Homo sapiens: one gene and its partners. The protein of the gene in region 2 purifies or fractionates together with the protein of the main gene of each other region. This does not show direct contact. Each region holds a gene or a part of one and is shown on either strand. Other genes may lie near its edges. The genes, in order: MKRN2, PAX8 and NFIB.

What was found.
Region 1: the proteins of PAX8 (region 2) and MKRN2 purify together in Homo sapiens (affinity purification with mass spectrometry, with the first as the bait; one large-scale study listed by BioGRID). This does not show direct contact.
Region 3: the proteins of PAX8 (region 2) and NFIB purify together in Homo sapiens (co-immunoprecipitation; one large-scale study listed by IntAct). This does not show direct contact.

What each region holds. Positions count from the first base shown.
Region 1 is NC_000003.12:12,560,033-12,563,687, reverse strand, and holds part of MKRN2 (E3 ubiquitin-protein ligase makorin-2), read right to left. Parts: intron 2,932-3,655; exon of another isoform or gene 2,689-2,931; intron 1-2,688. UniProt on the Homo sapiens protein: E3 ubiquitin ligase catalyzing the covalent attachment of ubiquitin moieties onto substrate proteins.
Region 2 is NC_000002.12:113,240,914-113,244,568, forward strand, and holds part of PAX8 (paired box protein Pax-8), read right to left. Parts: coding exon 3,514-3,655; intron 1,866-3,513; coding exon 1,777-1,865; intron 1,218-1,776; coding exon 1,095-1,217; intron 814-1,094; coding exon 638-813; intron 1-637. UniProt on the Homo sapiens protein: Transcription factor for the thyroid-specific expression of the genes exclusively expressed in the thyroid cell type, maintaining the functional differentiation of such cells.
Region 3 is NC_000009.12:14,150,076-14,153,730, reverse strand, and holds part of NFIB (nuclear factor 1 B-type), read left to right. Parts: intron 1-3,465; coding exon 3,466-3,586; intron 3,587-3,655.

The DNA of each region.
Region 1 (3,655 bases), on a different chromosome or scaffold from region 2:
TGAAACCCCGTCTCTACTAAAAATACAAAAAGTAGCCGGGCATGGTGGCAGGTGCCTGTAATCCCAGCTACTCGGGAAGCTGAGGCATGAGAATCGCTTGAACTCAGGAGGCGGAGGCTGCAGTGAGCCGAGATCGTGCCACTGCACTCCAGCCTGGCGACAGAGTGAGACTCCGTCTCAGGAAAAAAAAAAAAAAAAAAAAAAGAACTAGACAACAGGAGGGAATGGTATGCAAGGAATGCCAGGGAGGCCCGAGAGGCCCAGACTGCTGGTGTCTCCAGAGAAAGGGTACTAGTGAACATGCTGCACATCCGCCCCAATCAGAAACCTCTGACTTCTCCACCTGTTTCTCTCCCCAAAAGCAGAGGAAGTGCTGACCAGACCTACCTGACAGTTTATTTTTTTCCCAGGGAAATTATAAAAGGATATTCTAGTATATAAGTCAGTCTCTCATGCGTTTGGCTAGTATGAGCCACCTCTATGTACACCAACAGAATCAAATTTCTGAGCCTACAAAATGAGAACTGGACCTCATGACTTAAGTGACTATACAATGGTGCCATCCTACAGCCTTTGCTAGGTAGTCAGCTAGGCTTTCCCCAGGAAACACCCTCTTGTGGCCTACCATTAGATCAGCAGTCCCCAATCTTTTTGGAGCCAGGGACCAGTTTTATGGAAGACAATTTTTCCACGGAATGGGGGGATGGGGGATGGTTTCAGGATGATTCAAGCACATTACATTTATTGTGCACTTTATTATTATAATATATAATGAAATAAGTATACAACTCACCATAGTGTAGAATCAGTGGAACACTGAGCTTGTTTTTCTGCAACTAGATGGTCCCATCTGGGGGTCATGGGAGACAGTGACAGTTCATCAGGCATTAGATTCTCATAAGAAGCACACAACGTAGATCCCTCACATGCACAGCTGACAATAGGGTTAGTGCTTCTATTAGAATCTAATGCTGCTGCTGATCTGACAGGAGGTGGAGCTCAGGTGGTAATGTGAGTGATGGGGAGTGGCTATAAACACAGATAAAGCTTTGCTCACTTGCCCACTACTCACCTCCTGCTGTGTGGCCTGGTTCCTAAAAGGCCATAGACTGGTTGGGGACCACTGCACTAGATCAGACATTGTGCAGTAATTTGCCATAAGGCTGTTAAAGTTTTATTTTTTAAAAAGAAAAAGCACAAACAGAAGCTGGGAAACTTTTTGTTAGAAACTTAGAGTTCCTGTTATTTACAATACCGATTTTATAAATGCACAGAAGAGAGTTACACAGCAGATGTGAGACTGCTATCCTTAGGAAGGTCTGCTTCCAAGGCTGCCCCTTGCCTGGCATCTGGGAACTTGGCTAGTAACAGTTCTCTACACAGATACAAAATTTTCCCTAAATGATGGAGAGTGTCTCGCTGTGTCTAAACTGATGTACAATGTAGTTCATGCTGAAAACCTGCTTGCCTTCTGGGAGTCTGGAATTTTGGTTCATGCTAGGCAGAGGGTGCCTATGTGACCAGCTTGGGCACTGAATCCCTAATGGGCTTCCCTGGACACATGTTGCTGCATTTTCATTGCTGTGTGGCCCTCTCAGGGAGGGACAGATGTAGGAAGCCTGCACCCAGGCTCCTCCAGACCCCCCATGTCTTCTGCCATCATGATCTGGCTGTGACCCCTTACTAGATATGGTAATAATCTCAGCCTTGAATACAGCTGTATACTGGGACCCACTTGTCCTAGTTCTAGACAGTCTCTGGATTTGGGGTGGTCTTGGAGATCCCAAACACAAAAGTAGAGTATACATCTAAGCAGTTTGAGAATTATTTTTGAGAAATGCTACTCAAGACTGCAATATTTCAATTGTCCTCAGACATGGTAATCTTTGAAGGTATAATAATTTAAAAAAAAAAGTCAGTGCCAAGAGCCAAGTCTGAATGACAAAGAGGTATCAGGATTAGTAAACTCATAAATACTGAAAGAGGACAGGTTCAAAGTGGCAACATAAGCAGTTAAACAAAAGTGATATCGAATAAATACTGTATAGTTTCTTTCCTTTTCTCGGGTAGAGACAGGATCTTGCTATGTTGCCCAGGCTGGTCTCAAACTCCAGGGCTCAAGTGATCTTCCTACCTCAGCCTCCCCAAGTGCTGGGATTATAGGAATGAGCCACTGCACCAGCCAATACTGTATTGTTTCTTTTGAAGCAATTAGAACAGAAAATTTCCTGAAAGAACCAGGGTGGAAGACTACCACAGGCCCTCTACCAGATACTATTTGTTAACAAGGCAGACAAGAAGAAAGACTTTTTTAGGTAGTGGTCTCCTGCAAGGATGCCTTTTATAATTCTACCTCCGCCTTCCATACGTCCTATCCAGAAAACTTGCCTTCCAAACTGCACTAATTATCTCTTCCACTAAAATACAAATATTTAACTGCCAACCAGAGCTTCTAGTTAATTTTGCCATTTATAAGCTGGTGACTTCATAAAAGCCACTTCACTTCTGTAAGTGACTGAGCTGAGATTTAAACAGATTCAAAAATAATTTCTAGACCACCATCACTGCCTTCAAGAAAGGAAAGTATGAAATGAGAGTTATGTAAGAGGTGAAGTCAGCCCAGTCCTATTTTTGTAGCATATGTCACCATTTCCACTCCCCAGTGACAAGCACAAAGCCACCTAGAGCACATCCTGCTTGTCCTTTGGGGCATCTCTGTCATGTGCTTATAGTCACTCCTCTCCATCTATGTTATACTGATCTTACTCCAAGCCTCTTTCATGTTGCGCTTTGTAATGAATTTCCAACTGCTCAACCTTTCTGATGGACAAACCGCCCCTCATATCTTCCAAGAGAGACGACTGAGACATGAACTGGAGGAGGGGAGAGACGACTAGGTGGGTGAAGTGCATAGCTGGAGACTCAGAGCAGGTAGGTTCTTTCTGGGGGACACTCCAAAGGGGTGTTACCCTGGGTAAACCCAAAAGACTGTTTCAGACAGTATGGCTATTATACACTGCAGAGCATATCAGGTTCACTGCTGGCCACAGAACCACCAGCAGCTCCAGCAGCAGCAGTGCTAAGCAAAACAATCAATCTGGTTTCTTACAGGCCCTTGAATGTTGCCTGTTTAGCAAAACGCTTTTGCAAATCACTTCCAAGTATACAGGTAATTTGCATCCTCAGTGTCTTTTTTTTTTTTTTTTTTTACATTTTCCTACATATTTTCACAGGCTAAAATTTTACGGCTATACTCCTTGTGACAGCAGATCCACTGAGGGGGAAGGAAGCAAATGGTAGGCACTGTGGCAGGCTTGCAATAAATGTACTGATTAGAGGCGGGAATGAAATGAAGTACAGTGTGGTGGTGAAGACACTGAAGTCAGACTGCTTGCTATGTGAGCTTAAGCAAGTTATTTAAGTCACTGAGCCTCAGTTTCCCCATCTGTAATGTGATTATAATAACTGCACTTACTTCATAGACTGCTATGATAGACTACTGGGACATTTAACTGAGAAAATGCATGTAAGTGCTCATCCTAATACAAAATAAATGGTTTGTTGCTATTATTTAATTTTTAAACAGCCCTGCCGGTTAGGCATTACCATCCTCATTTCACAGATGAGGCAGTTGTTGCACAGGTGGTACCAGGAT
Region 2 (3,655 bases):
AGAGCAGCATGTGGGACATGCAGAAGGGCAAGAGGCAGGAGAGATGATTCATGTCGGAGGGGCAGGGGAGGACTGACGGAGAGGGTGATGTTTGGCTGAGTCATGAAGGCTAGTGGTATTTTTCCATGCAGAGAAGTGGGAGGAAAGGCATTCTGTGTGGAGGGCACACAGTGTGCAAGGGCAGAGAGGTGTGAGCGAGGGTGGTGAGCTCGGGGCCATGAGTAATGCAAGAGCATGGGGTGTGCAGGATGAGTGGCCAAAGGTGGGGCTAGGAAATAGTGGCTGAGGTCATTATGTGAAGGCTTTGTGCTACTGCTTCAGAGTTGTGGAACGTGATGTTGCAATCTGGGAAAGACGCTGATGGCAAGGGATAGCATCATCAGGTTGTGCTGCCATCCCTGAAAGGCCCAGGCTCAAAGGTTTTGGGTGAAGGAAGCCAGGAGGGTTAGAAAGGGAGGAAGATGCCAGGGCATCTGGTAAAATAAAGCATGTGTCAGGCTTGGAGTTGCATAAGGCAGGTGCCCTGAGCCCATTGATGCAACTTCCAGCTGCTTTGATGGAGCACAGGCTCATTTGGAGAATAGACCTTCTCTGGCCCTTGCCCACCCTGTTCACCTCCCAGGGCCCAGCTTCTCACCTGCTCGCCTTTGGTGTGGCTGGGGGAGGCATAGGCCTCTGGGTAGTGCTGCCGCTCAAATGGGCACTCGAGCGGCTCGAGGTGGTGCTGGCTGAAGGCATCCGTGCGAAGGTGCTTTCGGGGTCCGCTGCTGCTGCTCTGTGAGTCAATGCTTAGTCGGCAGCTATCCTGATCACCTGGTACCCCCCGGGAAGGAAGAAAGCTTTTAGGGGACCTATCTATTCATGCTCTAGGCCAAAGTAGAGGACTGACTCCAAGCTGACTCACTGTGGAGGGAGAAAAAGGGCCAGCCACGTGGGCCCAGGAGCCTTGGCCAACTGAGGGACAGGACATGTGACAGTCACATGCAGAGCCCCTACAAAGTCCCATATCATAAGTGGAAGGGTTTCTGTCCCCATCAAAGCCTGAGCAAACTGCTCTCGTGCACCGCCCGCTGCCCTCCTGTCCCAGCACTCACTGTCATCCATTTTCCTCTTGTCGCTGCCAGGCTGAGCGATGCCCAGGAGCCCATTGATGGAGTAGGTGGAGCCCAGGGAATCCGACTGGGGTGACTCCGGGGGAGTTACAGCTGAGCTGGGGACTGCAGTGGGGGAGAGGGAGAGGGTCAGGGGTGGGAGTGACACCCCTCACAGCCCTGGGTGACTCTGGGGTAGTTACAGTTGAGCTGGGGACTGCAGGGGCTGGGGGAGAGGGAGAGGAGCAAGGGGTGGGACACCCCTTACAGCCCTGGGGTGACTCTGGGGGGACTGCGGTGGTGGGAAGAGGGAGAGGGTCAGGGAGTGAGAGTGACACCCCTCACAGTCCCTGCTGACACTGTGCAGGAGGCAGCAAGCCGAACCATGGACTGAGCCCTGGAGGGGCTCAGGTCCTTCCTCCAGGGGGCCTCCTGGTGGGAGGGATTCTTGGAGTTAGAGCTGTCTCAAGTGTTTGCACCTCTCCATAGTTCAGTGAATCTGCCCTGGGAACAGGCCAGACTTCGTCGCAGTGGCACAACTCAGTCTACACATGGGTTTGTGAATGGTACTGTGCACAGCTATGTCTGTGTGGGTGTGTCTGTGTGTGCCTCTGTGTATATGTGGGTATGCTGAAGGGGAGGTGTACACGAGCATGTGTGTGTATCCAGGTCTCTCAGCACTCACTCAGCGTGTGTCCGGGACTCAGGGACTTGGTGGCCACGCAGCTGTCCATAGGGAGGTTGAATGGTTGCTGCACTTTGGTCCGGATGATTCTGTGATGAAGAGAAGAAAGGCCATGAGAGAGAAGAGGAGGAAAGAGAACTCATGGCTGCCCCAGACCCAGTCGCCTTTTTGACACCCCTTTTGGGTATCTCCAAGGCACTTGAAACTCAACTGTCCACAGTCAAGTCTGTGACCCTACTCCGCATGCCTAGTCCTCCTCAGTTGTCCGCATTTCATGATTGGTACCATCAGTCACTCAAGGCCAAAACAGAGATGGGGCTTAACCTCTGCTTCCCTCTCTTTCCTATCAAACCCATCATCAAGTTCTGTGTTTTGACCTTGTGAACCTTGCCAACGTTGACCCCTCTCTGCGTCTCTCCATCAGCACCTTAGTGCATGTCATCACCAGTGTTCCAGGGTCACTCAGTGGCCCACGCCCATCCCCTCTTGGCCCTTTCTAAGTGATTCTCCCTACTGCAGCCAGAGTGGACTTTCTGAAATGCAAGTTGGCTTAAAATCTGCCAAGGGTTTCCCATTGCTTTATGACCAAAGGCAAGAAGATATAACACAGCCCCCAGCCTCTGAAAGGTCACCTCTGCTGACATCTTCAACTTCAGCCTACCTTGTGCTCCCCTGCTCTTTATCTACTGGTTTTCTTTTCTTTCTTTCTTTTTTTTTTTGAGATAGAGTCTTGCTCTTGTCGCCCAGGCTGGAGTCCAGTGGCGTGATCTCAGCTCACTGCAACCTCTGCCTCCCATGTTCAAGTGGTTTTCCTGCTTCAGTCTCCCAAGTAGCTAGGATTACAGGCACTCGCCACCACACCCAGTTAATTTTTGCATTTTTAGAAGAGATGGGGTTTCACCATGTTGGCCAGGTTGGTCTCGAACGCCTGATCTCAGGTGATCCACCTGCCTTGGCCTCCCAAAGTGCTGGGATTACAGGCATGAGCCACTGCACCTGGCCTATCTACTGGTTTTCTTTTGATCCTATTAGCCACAGGGCCTTTGCATAACTGTCTGAGCTCTTTTCACCTAGTTCTCTTATTGTTTTTTACTCAAGGGAAGACTTTCATGAACTTCATAAACCAAATAATCCTGTGCTACCTTGCATATCTTCATGTTCCTTTTCTTAGCAGGACTTACAGCTGCATTTTTACAATATTTTTTGTAGGTAGTTGATTAATATCTGTGTTCTCATTAGACTGTAAGCTCCGCAAAGATGGGCTTTGTGTGTCCCAGGGCCTAGCACAAAATGAATGAGTGAATTATGTGTGAATGAATTAATGAACAAGCGAGTGAGTAAGTAAATGATTGATTGAGGCAGTGAGTGAATCATTGAGGGACTAAACGAATGAATGCTTGAATGTGGGCTGGGTTAGGGGTCTGATGGCTTAGAAAAGGATCAATTCATGAAGATTCTTTTATTGAATGAAAGCAGATGTGGTGTTTGAGGAAGGAAACTGTAGATAGCACACTATGGCTGGGGGCCAGGGGGAGGGTGCCCCATAGCATGGGGCAAGGGAGGAGGCAGGGAGGTATGATATCTGCCTGGAGCCAGGTGTGCTCCCTGCCTGATTGTTCAGCATCAGGCCCCTTCCCGGCCTCTGCTCCACCCAAGCCAGGCCTTTCTTGTCTCTTTCCTGATTTCCCCAAAGCCCAGGGGCCCCAGCCTGACACCAGAGGCTGCTTTCTCTCTTACCTATTAATGGAGCTGACACTGGGCACAGTGTCATTGTCACAGACGCCCTCAGCCAGGAGCCGGTCTCGGATCTCCCAGGCAAACATGGTAGGGTTCTGGCGTTTGTAGTCCCCAATCTTCTCCACCACCTTGGGGGTGGCCA
Region 3 (3,655 bases), on a different chromosome or scaffold from region 2:
ACAGTATGCTAGTGCTTTCAGTCCTCTAGGGTTTTACAATCATAAGACCCACTGATGTGTATGTTGACTTTAGCTAATGAAGCCATTCAGCATTAGGATAGTGATCTCTCTTTTGAATGATATTATCTCCATCTTAAAAGTTGATTTAGGATCAGCTTTTGGAGTGAGGAGAACAATAAGGGAGATTAAAGGTTGGCCTCTAACCCTTAGAATCTGAGGTTCTTTGGTGCTTCATTTCTAAGAGGATATCGGCATCCTCTTAAACATGATTTGCAGCTTTCAGCCTTCTTGTAGCTCCCTGGGAGAGGCGCTAACACTGATCTTTGCGTCTGATGTAAGTTCTTCCAGAGGCTCTTAAGCAGGAATATCTGACTGAGACTTGCTGTTCCCACACACTCTGTCATTAAATAATTTCCATGTGTGTTGTTTTAGTACTTTGGCCGTGTTTGTTAATCTACTTTCCTTTCTGTATCTCCCATTTAGTGTCAGAATGCATACTAAATTTTTACAGTGCTCATGCATAAATCCGTAGACAAATTATTTTATTGCTATCTTTACAAAATTAAAACATAATATGTGTACATATTTATGGAATCCATGTGATCTCTGGATCCATGCATACAGTGTATAATGATTAAATCAGGCTATTTAGGATATCTGTCATCTCAAACATTTATCATTTCTTCATGTTGGGAATGTTTCAAATCTTCTTTTTTTGCTATTTTAAAATATGTAATATATTGTTGTTAACTGTAGCCACCCTGCTGTGCTATCAAATACTGGAAATTATTCTTTCTGTCTATTATAACTGTATGTTTTTACCCATTAACCAATCTCTCTTCATCTCCTCACCTCCCCACCCTCCCCCACCTCTGACAACCCCTTCGATGAGATCAACTTTTTAAGCTCCCATGTATGAGTGAGAACATGCTATATTTGTCGTTTTTATTGCTGTCTTGACACTGCGGAATAATCTTTCTGGAACAAAATTTAGAAAAAAACAATTTCTGAAGATTTTAAAATTATCATTTACTACAAATTACATCTAGTTTATTTATGGGTAAGCAAATTATGTTAACTATGGAGCCATATGTATTCAATAGAAACTATAAATCTTTGCCTAAATATTGCATGAGCTTAATAAATTGAAAATAGTTTATGTAAGGTGGAACCTCTAAGTTTCCTGTTAATAACTCAGGTCTATGAATTGTATCCATTACTGTGATAGGAAGCCAGACAGATTGTTTACTTCACTTGAGCCCCTGAAATACTCCTTCTAGCATGTACCCCACTTCCAGTGTCATATAGAACATGGTTCTAATAATAAATTATAAAACATGCGGTTACTGTGGGATTTCTTACCTCACATTTTTTTAACCTTTGGTGTGCCTCAAGCCACAACAGACATAGCTACATTTTAGCTGTCCAAATAATTCAAGCCATCAGGCACTTAGTTACTCATTGGATACAAGTATTTTCTGTGTAAAGGATGTTACAGTGTATTATATAACATGAACAATCTATCAGAAGGCTGATAGATAATCCAGAAGTTTGGAGCTGTTACTAGTCATGTATATACTGATGTATTTAATTTTTAGTCCAGAAAGGGAGATGTTCATTGTGTATTCCGTGGTTACTTCTCTGTGATAAAGCTTGTACCTCCTAATCATACTTTCTTAAAAATATTTTAAGTTAATCTTAGCCTGCCTAATATTAAAATACAATTCAAAGGGTAGTGAACACATTTAGAATATTCATTAAAAATGAGGGGTAAGAAAACTTCCATAAAAATCTGCAATCCCTTTGGAATTTTATACTCAACTTGAGGCAGATGGGAGAGAGGAGGAGTTTAAGTAGACCACGTATGCTTAGAGTGCATCTCAGGGGCTCTAGAATTTTGTTGCAAAGCCCCAGAGTACAATTTCGTGTGAGCTTTTGAAGGGCTGATTAAGACAGGTAAAGAAATGGAAACTATTCTTAAGGAGTTCTTTGACACCAACCTGCCTGGTCTCCACTTTGCACATTATCTCTACCTATGATTTTGCTTCTGCAGCAGTCCCTGTTTAGAATGACCTCCCTCTAATCTCTTACTCATTCTCCAGAGTCCAGTGCCAGCTATGGCTTTTCGCAGACTTCTTGGACAATTCAAGCTGGTATTGGATTCTTTTTCCCTTGAAATTCTACAGCAGTTTTGGATCATGTCATTAATTTGGACAGTTTCATTTTCATCTATTTTGGTATTTATGTGTTTCGCATGAATGTTTTACTTACCCAGCTTGTTGCCCAATATTTTTATTAAGGGCAATATATGAGACTATTTTGTACACATTGCAGCCAACACCTGCCAGCAGTGGACACAGTCAGTAATTTGTTGAATGAACAAATTTTCAGCGAACAGGTTCATTTATACCTCTTCCTCTGCTTTTAACACGTTTTTGAACTGTTCATCTTTGCTAACCATTCCAGTCTACCAGGGAAGAAGTTTGGAGGAGAAAGCAAAGAAGGAAGGGAACTCACAATGGTTGAGCACGTGTTATACACTAGGCATGATTCTAGGCTCTTATCACTACCTATTTCATTTCATCCTCAAAATAATCCTATGTGTCCGGTTATTATTACTCCCATTTTACAGTTAGGAAACTAGGGCACATAACTTATAATACAGAGGGAGTTTAAACTAAAAGGCTATTTATCTCTCAAGACTCTGCTGATTCTAACACAATATGCTGCCTCACAGCTTTGTTCATGATATCTAAAATTAAATTTAAAAAATGTGAACAGATGTAATTATACAAAATATCATGAGATATTTTGATAAAGACATACAATGCATAATAATCACATCAGGGTAAATGGGGTATCCATCACCTGAAGCATTTATCCTTTGTGTTACAAACCAAAAATTATTATTCTATATTATCAACATTAATATCAACATTAATATTTGAGTGGATTAGAAGTCATGATATTAATAATTATTATCATATCCTAACTGGGAGGCTGTGAATAATGATTTTTGCTTTTTTTTGTGAAACGGTTCTCTGTTTATTTATTTAACAATGATTTGGTTTTCGAGAGCCTAGGTAGTGCAAAGCAGCTTGTTTGGTGTTGCTGAGTGATAGGACTCGTATATTCTGTTTCCTCCAAGGCATTTTTAACTAGCAGAGTGACAGATGTAATGTCAACTAATATAAAGGAGTGAGTAAAGAAGGTTGAGGAATAGGATTCGGGAAATTGGTAACCAGTGATTATAATCTGATTGCCTCAAATTTCCAAGCTTGAACGTTGCTAAGGTGAGCAAGTTTTCAGGTCCTACCCAGGTTGTATGGTGGGTATTAGAGGCTTAAGGTGAAGAAAGTTCTCTCTATCTTTGACCAGAGGCATGAAAGATTCTCGATTATTACATTTGAATAGAGGTCAGAAATACGAATGTCATTCCCAGTGCTTCTTTGTCTTATTCCTCAGCGCCCATAACCCAGGGAACTGGAGTCAACTTCCCAATTGGAGAAATCCCAAGCCAACCATACTATCATGACATGAACTCGGGGGTCAATCTTCAGAGGTCTCTGTCTTCTCCACCAAGCAGGTACTGAAAGAAGGGCTGCTCATATTCTCAAGTGATACACACATAGGTTCGTAGGTGGATGATAGGCAG